2 linked regions of the Homo sapiens genome follow. The gene in region 1 interacts genetically with each later gene. Each region holds a gene or a part of one and is shown on either strand. Other genes may lie near its edges.

Evidence for each region. Genes that interact genetically often act in the same process or in processes that back each other up.
Region 2: changes in SOX7 (region 1) and FBXW7 are lethal when combined (synthetic lethality), as found in Homo sapiens cells (one study listed by BioGRID).

What each region holds. Positions count from the first base shown.
Region 1 is NC_000008.11:10,723,268-10,727,511, reverse strand, and holds the end of SOX7 (transcription factor SOX-7), read left to right. Parts: intron 1-845; coding exon 846-1,774; 3' UTR 1,775-3,744; downstream 3,745-4,244. UniProt on the Homo sapiens protein: Binds to and activates the CDH5 promoter, hence plays a role in the transcriptional regulation of genes expressed in the hemogenic endothelium and blocks further differentiation into blood precursors.
Region 2 is NC_000004.12:152,533,093-152,540,675, reverse strand, and holds the start of FBXW7 (F-box/WD repeat-containing protein 7), read left to right. Parts: upstream 1-4,583; 5' UTR 4,584-5,549; intron 5,550-5,642; 5' UTR 5,643-5,735; intron 5,736-7,583. UniProt on the Homo sapiens protein: Substrate recognition component of a SCF (SKP1-CUL1-F-box protein) E3 ubiquitin-protein ligase complex which mediates the ubiquitination and subsequent proteasomal degradation of target proteins.

The DNA.
Region 1 (4,244 bases):
GAGAGTGTCACAATATCTTTATTTTATACTGAAGAAAATAGAGACTCTGGAAAGTGCAGGGAATGGCTTCTGCATGGAGATCTGTGGCTAAGCAGGTGCCCTGGCACCGTCAAGGGTCCCCAAAAGATGGCTGGCTGGAAGTGACGGTTTGCATGTATATGTGTGTGCATGCATGTGTCTGGGTGTGCGTATATGTGTTGCAAGCAGATGCTAGCATTCTGGCCTCAGTCATCCAGCAGGGTTCTATTCGACCTTCAGAGGTAAGGAATAGGTATTTGTTAACCTAAGTGAGAATCTCTGATTTACTGACATCTGTGAAAGTATTGACTGAGCCTGGGTTCCCTCCCAGAAAGGGCTGTGAGATTTATGCCATAGGTAAATATGATAGTATCTCTTTAGCCTGCACTAATCAATGAAGGCAGAGATTTTCATGAGAATACACAAATGTTTAGAATGGACCCTGGAAGGGTAAAAAGAGCCCCAATCAATATCGTGATCATTAGATATTTTCTTCCCGTAGCTGACATATGGTCAGGTGGGCTTTTCACTGGGGACCCCGCATTGTAGTGTGGGCACGCTCTGGCGGCTTTTATATGAGAGGTGATGCTTTCTGTGTGCACCGTGCACGATCTGGCTTTCTGGATGCAAGCAGAGGGGTTGATTTCGCTTCACTGTGCCTGCAGGATCTGGGCTGGGAAGAGGGTGCAAGAGATGCCCGTGTCCTCTGTGGCTGGGAGGGGGAAGGGAGGTGTGTGTGCATGTGCACGTGTGTGTGCACGCGTGTGCATGTGCGATGCCTGCGGGGCACAGCACTGAGCATGGCCTCCTCTGCCTTGTGTGAGCAGGAAAGTCGTGGAAGGCGCTGACGCTGTCCCAGAAGAGGCCGTACGTGGACGAGGCGGAGCGGCTGCGCCTGCAGCACATGCAGGACTACCCCAACTACAAGTACCGGCCGCGCAGGAAGAAGCAGGCCAAGCGGCTGTGCAAGCGCGTGGACCCGGGCTTCCTTCTGAGCTCCCTCTCCCGGGACCAGAACGCCCTGCCGGAGAAGAGAAGCGGCAGCCGGGGGGCGCTGGGGGAGAAGGAGGACAGGGGTGAGTACTCCCCCGGCACTGCCCTGCCCAGCCTCCGGGGCTGCTACCACGAGGGGCCGGCTGGTGGTGGCGGCGGCGGCACCCCGAGCAGTGTGGACACGTACCCGTACGGGCTGCCCACACCTCCTGAAATGTCTCCCCTGGACGTGCTGGAGCCGGAGCAGACCTTCTTCTCCTCCCCCTGCCAGGAGGAGCATGGCCATCCCCGCCGCATCCCCCACCTGCCAGGGCACCCGTACTCACCGGAGTACGCCCCAAGCCCTCTCCACTGTAGCCACCCCCTGGGCTCCCTGGCCCTTGGCCAGTCCCCCGGCGTCTCCATGATGTCCCCTGTACCCGGCTGTCCCCCATCTCCTGCCTATTACTCCCCGGCCACCTACCACCCACTCCACTCCAACCTCCAAGCCCACCTGGGCCAGCTTTCCCCGCCTCCTGAGCACCCTGGCTTCGACGCCCTGGATCAACTGAGCCAGGTGGAACTCCTGGGGGACATGGATCGCAATGAATTCGACCAGTATTTGAACACTCCTGGCCACCCAGACTCCGCCACAGGGGCCATGGCCCTCAGTGGGCATGTTCCGGTCTCCCAGGTGACACCAACGGGTCCCACAGAGACCAGCCTCATCTCCGTCCTGGCTGATGCCACGGCCACGTACTACAACAGCTACAGTGTGTCATAGAGCTGGAGGCGCCCCGTCCGGTCAGCCCTCGCGCCCTCTCCTTCTTGTGCCTTGAGTGGCAGAGGAGCCGTCCAGCCACACCAGCTTTCCTCCCACCGCTCAGGGCAGGGAGGTCTGAACTGCGGCCCCAGAGCCTTTGGCCTAAGCTGGACTCTCCTTATCCGAGTGCCGCCTCTATCCCCTTCCCCACGTTCCAGCCCCTGCAGCCCACATTTTAAGTATATTCCTTCAAGTGAGTTTTCCTCCAGCCCCTGAGAGTTGCTGTCTCCCAGTGGAATGTTCACTGACGTCTTTTCTTGGTAGCCATCATCGAAACTAATGGGGGGACAGACTTGATAGCCAAGGTCCCTTCTGGTCCAGTTTTCTGATTTAGGGTTCTCTCAAGATTAATAAAGGAAGATGGGGAAATTTGACTCATTAATGAGCTCGCTAACCTACGATCTGGTGATAATTTTGTGTGCACAGCCCAAGGACCACGAGGCTTTCTGCACTTTCTGCACCCCCTTCCAAAGTGACCACAAAATTTCAAAGGGACTCATACAATTTGAGAAAAAACAGTCAACCTGATTTGAGAAATTAACCAGTATGGCTAACTATATCACAGAAAATGGGATTGAGTTAAAACTATTTTATTTTAAATATACATTTTAAAGCAGTTCTTTTTTTTTGTTAATTTGTTTATTATACACACACTTCAAGAGAATATGCACAGTCTAGGCCGGGCACGGTGGCTCACGCCTGTAATCCCAGCACTTTGGGAGGCCGAGGCATGTGGATCACCTGAGGTCAGGAGTTTGAGACCAGCCTAGACAACATGGTGAAACCTTGTCTCTATGAAAAATACAAAATTTGCTGGGAGTGGTGGTGCATGCCTGTAATCCCAGCTACTTGGAAGGCTGAGGCAGGAGAATGTCTTGAACCTAGGAGGTGGAGGTTGCAGTGAGCTGAGATTGCACCATTGCACTCCAGCCTGTGCAACAAGAGTGAAACTCCATTTCAAGAAAAAAAAAAAAAAAAGAATATGCACAGTCTGAATGTATACCAGGAGTGTGAGAGACACATGCCCACTTCATGCAACTCCTAAACTCAAAGTCTAAATCAGATATTTTTATTAACAATGACAACTTGTTGCCAACTCCCTGTTTCTAATGACCAAAGACCCAGGGTACCTAAAAGGACTTTGCAACCAAGCAAAGTCACTGTCTTCAAATCTGGATACACACTTTCCCCTCTGTAGATTCAAAAGGTGCTTCCTTCCCGGCTGTCTCCAGCTTCCTTACTCTCTTTTCTGGGATTTCTTTTTCTCTTCTTTCTGCTCTTCCTCCACTGCTGAACTGGTCCCTAACTGAAACAGCCCCTGACTTATCCCAAGCATGCTTCCTTTAGCTGCTGTGAGAATTTGTCTTCCTCACCAGCCAGGTCCTCAGGCAAAGTCCTCAGCCAGTGCTTTAGAGCAACTTCCCGCAAATCAGAAACTCACTGTGATTCCAAAAATGTTTCTGAGCCCTGGACCCCTGCCCCCAAAATATTTTCATCTTTCCCCCAAACCTCCTTTAAAGGAGCATGCATAACAGTGTGCTGAAAGACAGTTGTTGGTTTTTTGATTTTAGCATATTATTTCCTGTATGAAATATGTTTTATATAATCTCCTATTATTTTTATCTTATGTTTTGTATTGTTGATAAATCCTTTTTGTCCTTCTAAGATGTCCTATTGTAAAATCACTTATAAGGTATGATTACTCTTTATGCTATTACTTTATATGCCATTTGGTAATAAATAGTAAATTGTTGATGATATGATTGACTGATGCGCAGTCCAGAGCATGTATGAATAATCTCATAAAACAGTATCACAGACATTAAGCTAAACTGTTTCGTTTTTTTGAAAGAACAACTCATACTTTGGAACAGTTGTCAATATTAATTTGTTGCAAATATTTAATTTAAATAAACATTTTTGTACCATGACTGTTCTATCTTTTGAAATATAGTTTTGCAAAAAGAAAAGGTTTCCAAGCAAGACATAAATGTTACATCGGGTGCTACTTGTGGTATTGATCAACATGTTTTCTACATCGACTTTTTTATTTTAAAAAGTTGTTATCTGGTAGGGATGGTTTATTTTATTTTATGAGTTATGCTAAAGAGATAAATCCAAATTTTACGCATTGGAATCTGCTGTTTTTATTGACAATGAAAGAAAATGTCAACTCATGACCTACATGTAGAACAATTTTCTCCTTGTGACGACTTTACACTCGTAAAGTGGAATGAGGTGACTATGAGGCTGTCTGAAGAAGGAAAGTAAGTTTTGTCTACTCGTTTGCTTACTTAAAACTGTCACAGCTATTTTTTTTTTTTTTTTGTATTTTTAGTAGAGACGGGGTTTCGCCATGTTGGCCAGCCTGGTCTCGAACTCCTGACCTCAGGTAATCCACCCGCCTCAGCCTCCCAAAGTGCTGGGATTA
Region 2 (7,583 bases), on another chromosome or scaffold:
CTGGGTGCCATGAAAAGTGGTAGGAGGCAGACAGGCTCCAGTGTGGAAAGGAGCGGGTTCCCAGTGAAGTCCCACCTTTAGGCTGGGGAAGGCCTGAAGCCTGGGGATTGGACTGCCCATCCTGCACACTAGAGGGGGAACTTATGGTGCTTTTTCCTAGGCCTGCCCAAGGACCAATCAGCATGCACTTCCTCCCCTGAGGCCCGGGGCTCAGTCAGAACTGAGCAGGCGATGGATGACCAGCTGCAGAGAGGAGCTACCTTCTTTGCCGCTAGCTGAATACTTGTTAGGATGACCAGGTGCAGAGAGTAGCTATCCTCCCTGCTGAGAACTGAACACTTGTTGGGACAACCTTCCTGCATAGAGGAGCTCTCCTCTCTGCTGAGAGCTGAAAACTCATCAGGACAACCTGCCTAGCAGAAAGGAGCTGCCCTCCCTGCTAGCAGCTGAACACTCACTGGGACACCCTGGCTGCAGAAAGGAGCTATCCACTGTGGGTCTCCTCTCAGCTGTTCCATTACTCAATAACATCTTGCTCACCCTCCACTTGTCTGTGTACCTCATTCTTCCTGGTCACGGGACAAGAACTTGGGACCTGCCAGATGGCGAGGCTAAACGAGATATAACACAAATGGGGCTGAGACATCCCCATTGCTTGCCACGTTGCGGGTGAAGAGGAGGGAAGGGCTGTGGCCTTTTGGGGAGCCCAGACCTGGGAGCTCCCCAAGCCAACACTGTGACTCCCTCTTTGGGTCCCTGCAGTTCCTGGCGTCTCCAAGCTTCCGGGTGCCAATGTGTTCCCTGGTGCCAGCTGTGGAAGCTGCTTGCAGTATGCCTGGTCCAGCCACAGCCTTGCAGAGAGCTGGTGCATCTGGAGCTGCCCGCCCCACTGCAGCAGCTGGTGTGTCTGACTGCGCAGTAGCCAGACCTCACGCTCGCTCACACATGCCTTGCCACTCCACGCCGTACTTGCCCTTGGCAGGTGTGGGATCCAGGCCGGTAGCATAAGCTGAGCACAGCCTGCCAGGCCAAGTAGGTGGAATGAGCCCAGTGGGCCTGAGCAAGACTTGTGCAAAGGCGCCACAGGCTACAGAGGTTTCTGGCCAGAAAAGCGACACCCTAAACATCCCATAACATTACTTTACCTGTTCAAATGTGGACTATGAAAGGATATTGAAAAGTTGGGCATCTCAGAGACTTAGACATTGAAAAGATACTAACGCGCCACAAAAATGTAAATCCAAATAGCTAGTTGTATACAAGAAGGTCCTCAACAGCATCAGTAATCAGAGAAATGACAGTTAAAACCACAATGATATATTACCATACACCCACCAGACTGGCAAAACCAAAAAGACCAATAATGTCAAGTGTTGTGAAGGTGTGGAGCAATGGGACTCATATATACCTAGTGTGACTGTGTAACCCTCTAGAAAAGAACTTGGCATTATTTATTCAAGTTTATGATACATATTACACTCCCAGGTATATGTTATACAGAAACTGACGTAGATGTGATGGAATACATATATGAAGAATGTTCACATTAGCATTTATAACAATCCTAAACTGGAAACAACCCAGATGTCCATCAGCAATAGAATGGCTAAACATATTGTCACATATTGTTATAATGGGACACTGTAATATGCAGCAATGAAAATGCACAAATTACAGCTATAGGAACAACCTGAACAACATATGAATTAAAAACAATGTTGAGCAAAAGCAGCAAGAACAACAGATTACATATTATATTGTTCCAGTTACATAAAGTTCAAAAGAAAGAGTGAGACTAAACAATATATTGTTTAGGGATGCATGCTTGCGACAAAGCGACAAAGAAAAGCAGGGAAATGATTATCACAAATGTTAGAATAATGACTACACTTAGGAGGGAGGGAAAGAGTTGTGTTCGGGAAGGTCATGGCAGGGAGGGGAACTTCTGAGTTGCTGGAAATATTCCATTTCTTGACCTGGTTGATTGGTTACATGGTGGTTTCCTTTATAATCACTTATACTATATAATTGCTTTATGTATTTAAACTATATTTCACAATAAAAATGTTAAAATTAATATAGATAGTATTTCTGGAAAGCAAAATTTTGCCAGATAATTTAGCTTACACAATCTTTGACAGTAAAAGCCACTGATATGGAATAACGAAACACTGATTAGTTTCTTGTAAGAGCTCACTTTCAAGTGTAGAGGTCAAAAACCTTATAAGAGTCTCCGTTTTTCTATATTTTAACACAGTATTTAGATCCTTATCTTAAATTGATGAACCAGGGAAGTAACTATTAGCTAAAACTTCAGATTTTTTGGAATTTTTAATTAACTAGCTGTTTTCTCCTCTGGATTAATAAGCAATACAAGGAACTAAAGAGATGCAGACCAAGTTGGAAATGTATGAACTTCCTTCTCTCCAGTCTCCAGTTCCAGCTGTTTCCTCCTGTTATCAAGCTGGGTGCTGAGGTGGGTATCTAGCCCAGTAAGCTTAGTGTGCTGTTATTAAATACTTTCTAAGTAAGTGGCTCAGGCTCTCCTGAGTGCCCTTCTGTTCCTCAGCACTGAGGTTGTAAGGTGGAGCCACTGACAATGAAAACAGAAGATCACGCTGCTGAAAAACCCTATGTGGTACACACTTAACTGGAGGTGTTCTCTGCTGGGCTGCAGAACTCTGATGTTTGCACTCTTTTCCTTCAAAGCCTACAAAGGTTAAACTCTCTGAGGTGTTTAGCTTCACAAAATCCCCTAAATCTGTGTGTTTTACTCCTTTAATTTCCACCATTCCCCTGTTGTAAGATAGGAAGAGGGGGAAAAACAAAAAATATTTATTTTGTAGCCATGTGAGACCATCACTTGTTGGTCTGATTACCTGTGAGTCTTATTTGGAAGGCTGTAGCAGGGGATTGGTCACGTAAAGACAGAAAAATCCAGGGTAATTTAAGCAGGATATTTAACCTGGCTCTTGGAACTTCAGGTCAAGGGCAGTAGGGTCAGGTGCTAGTCTGTGAGTCTCTCCTTGGTTTTGCCACATCCTCCTTTGCCCCTCTCACCACCTTTCCCGCAGCATTTTAATGAACACGAGCCCTTGGATTTACCCAGTTAAAAGTTTCCTTAGTTTACTGTTTGCAGATGGTAGTGGCAGTAGTGGGAGAAACCCAGAGCTTCCCACATTTGTCTATAATACACTTGCTCCTACCTTACCCCCTCCTCCAGGTGGAAAGACTTGTAAAATCCATTACTACTGCTTCCCAAGGAGGTAGAGTGTACTAGGGTCCAGGGACAGAATTGTGGAATCTGCTTTCATCATTGCTGCTGCTTTAATCTTTTTCTCATACTATTCACTGAAGACAGATTTCTGAGGATTCTGGTCCTTTTATCTTAAATTTGTTTTCCTAGAGAACTACACTTTAAACTTCATGAGTTTCTACTTAACTTTCCTTTCCAGGATAACATCTGTAGGAAAAGCTGCATAATAGTAATAACACTTATTTTAGAAAGAAAATAACCTTTGAGTCAGACCTGAAACAGGCCAACATTTCTTGATGACAACGTACACTGATGAACCAAGACCAGAAGCTCTCGAAAGCTCCAAACCGTAAGAAAGAACCATTCGTAAAAGTGAGGGACTATTAAATTCTTCCCCTGACAGTCAAAAATCCTTCAGCAATCTCCCAGAGGATGGCTCCCTTCCAATCCTCCCTTCCCGCCGCCCTAACAATCTGCGCGAGGATGGGTCCCTTCCCTTGCTCGGCATTTCGTCTCCTTTTCCACTAAAGACTCAGGTTGTGACTCTGTACTCAAGCCGCACCCCTGTTTCCTTTCATGGCTAGGGGGAGGGGAGGAATGTATTACAACTCATTTTTACAATGCACTGCAGTTTACAAAGCGCTTGCACTTCCACCATATCCTCTGAGCTTCACGAGTGCCACGTGAGAGAGGCATTCATTCATTCATTCATTCATCAAACATTTGCTCGGCCCGACCACACGTTATCCAACGCTGGGTCTCACCCCACGCCACGGGAAGGGTGGGGCGCTCTCTCCCTGGAGCAGGTGCAGATCAGGCTGTAGGGTAACTCCTCGATCAGTCCGGCTTTTCGAGGGTCTGTTTGGGGCCAAATGCCTCACCTTCGGGTGGTGCGCGCAGCTGCCTGAAGACGCGGCCTGGGCCTCCTCCTTCCTCCCAAAGGAGCAGTCCCCACCTGCCCCGAAGGAAACCGCTACAGACCAAGCTCTCCAGGCCGCCCTCGGGTCAGGGGTAAGATCGGGCGGCAGCTTAGGCTCGACTCGGCTCCTCCCCTTCCTCTCTTCAGTTCTGACGCGGCCGTAGAGGCGGCAGCGGCGGTGGCGGCTGCGAGTCCCGCGGCCCGAGGCGCACCCACCCGCTCGCCGATCCCCACTTCCTCTTCCCTTGGAGCGTCATCAGAGCGCGCCAGAGGCGCCCAGGGCGGGGTGGCTGGAAGGGGGAAAAAGGCCAGCGGAGGAAGCCTCAGAGCGGAAAGAAGAGGGAGGGGGAAGAGAGCGGTTGCTAGGTGACTTGCGTCATCGGCAGGCGCCGCTCTCCTCCCGCCCCTCTCTCTGGAGTGAGGCGAGAGCCCCGCACAGAGCGAGGGAGACAGCGAGCTGAGCTCCGGGCGCTGCCGCTGCCGCTGCCGCCGCCGCCGCCGCTGAGACTGAGAGCGAAGGAGCATCCGAGAGATCCAGTCCCCCTGCACTGGCCGCCGCCGAGACCTTCGCTCTCACCTGGGCCAGCGGGAGCCGCGGCCGCACTCCTTTCCCCCCCTCACCTTCCCGGCCGGCAGCGGCGGCTGCACACGCCGGAGCCGGAGCCAGAGCCGGAGCCCGAGCCTGAGCCGGAGCCGGCGGCTTGGGGGGCAGGGAGGCGGCTACCACGGGCCGGGAGTGGGTAGCTGCTCCGCGGTGAGAGAACGCTGAGGAGGCGCCAGAGCTTCTGCCTCGTCCCGTGGGGCGTGGGGCGAGACCCCCAAGGTGTAGGGAGGGGGGTCCCAGCCGCAGCGACACATGCGGGAGCCGGGAGCGGGGGCGGCGCCGAGCGGAGCCGGCCGGGTCCCTCGCCTTGCCGCCGACTCGGCCACCCGCCCGGGGCCGTAGCATCTTGCCCCGGAGTGTATGAACCGGGGCCCCAACCAAGCTCGGCAACCACCCCCCGGCCGGGGGGGCGGGGACCCCGATGTGAAGCGGCGGCTGGGGCGGCGGAGAGAACAGGACCGACGCCGCCGTCCTTTCCTCACCTTCCCCCTCCCCTCAGCCCCCTCCGGGGGTCTTCTCCCTTGGCCAGTCGCCGGCCCCCCGGCTCCTTGGCTGGACTCCGGGAGGAGTTCCTAGAGCCCCCCTCCCCCGCCCCAGTCCCGAGGGCGGCGGGGCCGGGGGGGACCCGGGGGGCCGGCCGCAGCCTCCACCCAGAGGAAACTTTACAAAAACAAAATCCGGAGTCTCCCAAACCTGACTGTCCCGGGAGAAGTGGCCCTGGACGGGCAGAAGCCGCAGCCTGAAAAGACCCAGGAAGAGGAAAAGAGGAGGTAAGCGGGGCCGCCGCCTCCCCTCCCCTGGCAGCGCGGAAGAGACCCGGGTTGCCGCCTGGTTTAGCGACACGAGCACCGCTTCTTCCTCAGTACCGCGCCGGAGCCTTCCGCAGCTGCCGCTTCAGTCCGAAGGAGGAAGGGAACCAACCCACTTTCTCGGCGCCGCGGCTCTTTTCTAAAAGTGTGAGTGGCCCCGGGAGAGGGAATTGAGGGGGAGAAAGTGGGAGGATGCCGGCGCTTCCTCCTGGAGTTTTGCTGATGTTCTCCAGTAGTGTTGGGAGTCTATCAATGAGGGAGTCTAGCTTTATTCACGGAGGGGGGAAGGTGTTAGGGAGGCCTGTATTTTGTAACTTTTTAGCTCTTTGTACGAGTAATGCAAGTATGCAGGTTTCTGTCGGAGGAGTCTTTTCTCCAAAGTGAATACTCGCACCTTTCTGGCCAGCAGTTGGCAAAGGGAAATTGAGGAAGCCAGAGCATATGTGCGCACAGAGGCCATCTGTATCTGTAACCTTTTCCTGGTACTGTGGGTGTGTGCGGTGTACTTTTTGTTTCGGGGGTACTCTCATATAGGTTCCCGAATGAGAACTACTTAACCTGTGGACCCCTGAAAGTAAAATTCCTTTTTTAAAAAACAACAACAAACCTGTTTTGAGAGAGGTTCATTTCAGTACCTATTGGTACAGGAGTTAACCTTCTCAGTTACTGGGTCCAATTTCATGTGTGTCAGGAGGACACTGTAACAGATGTCAGTTACTCAGGAACTTGAGTTGTTAGGAATCACAACTTACTTGGGGAAGAGCATTTATCACATTAATCATTTTATAAAAGTTGTGATTTTTTCCCTTTCACCCCCCCCTTTTTTTTTTTAGAGTAACAAATTACAGCACTTTTTTATTTGGTTTGAGGCTTTGCTTTTTTGAATTATCTTTATTTCTGTATCAATTTAGGATACATCTTTGATATTTAAGTCAGGAATGATTTTTTCCTTCCATTATTTTAAAGCTGAAGTTTATAAAACCTTTGACTTGTATTTTAGGTATCTTGTCAGAGTACCAAATTAAAGGTTTATGAAAGTAATTAATATTTCATATACAGACCTTAAGGGTTAAACATAGAGCAGAATTTTATGTAAGAAGACATAGACAGTAGTATACTGAGAATTGTGGTCCGTCTAGACAACTGTGGGCTCGTTCTGTCTGAAGCCACTGCTGAGAGATACTTTGTGGGAATGAATGTAAGCCTGGGGTTATCTCTCTTTTCGAAGTTCTCCATTCAGGATCTTGATTAGATTAATTTAAAACTTTCTCAAACTTAACAATGTTTGGTCCTTTTTTTTAAAGTAATGAGTTCTGCAAGTTTATTAGCCTGTGTATTATGTGACAGTTCATTTACATATTCCATACCTGTGTCCCTAAACTTTCAGGACACAGTCAGAGTTTGTGTTTCAAGAATTATCAGGACAAGCCTCAGTTCATCTTTTCTTAATTTTATGGACTTTCATTATTTCTACCATCAGTTTCTCCAACTGTTGTCTTAGAATAATGTCTTTCATTTGACCACTTTTCCCTCCTCTGGAACTTCTCCCACTGAATTGTTTTTCTTTAGTTGCCTTGTTATGCTTTGGTAAGGAACTTTAAATTCTGTCCTTTAAATGTGTACTGACATGAAAATACTGAATAGTGGATGTAATGTTAGAATCAGAGTCACGTATTCTGTTTTTCACTAAGATATTGCAAAGAGAAATGTAGTCATTTTCTAAAATACTGTACCCAAAATACAGTAGAAGCTGTATTTTGGGAAGGAGGGGAGGACAAACTAAGAAACAAACTATAGTTTGAATGTAGGTTGCACTCTGTCAAAGTTGCTTACTAACTTTAGGACCTACTTTTATTGCTTATGGATTGGTTAAAAATTACGGTATTTTTTTTTTTTTTGAGACAGAGTCTTGCTCTGTCACCCAGGCTGGAGTGCAATGGAGCGATCTTGGCTCACTGCAACCTCCGCCTCCCAGGTTCAAGCGATTCTCATGCC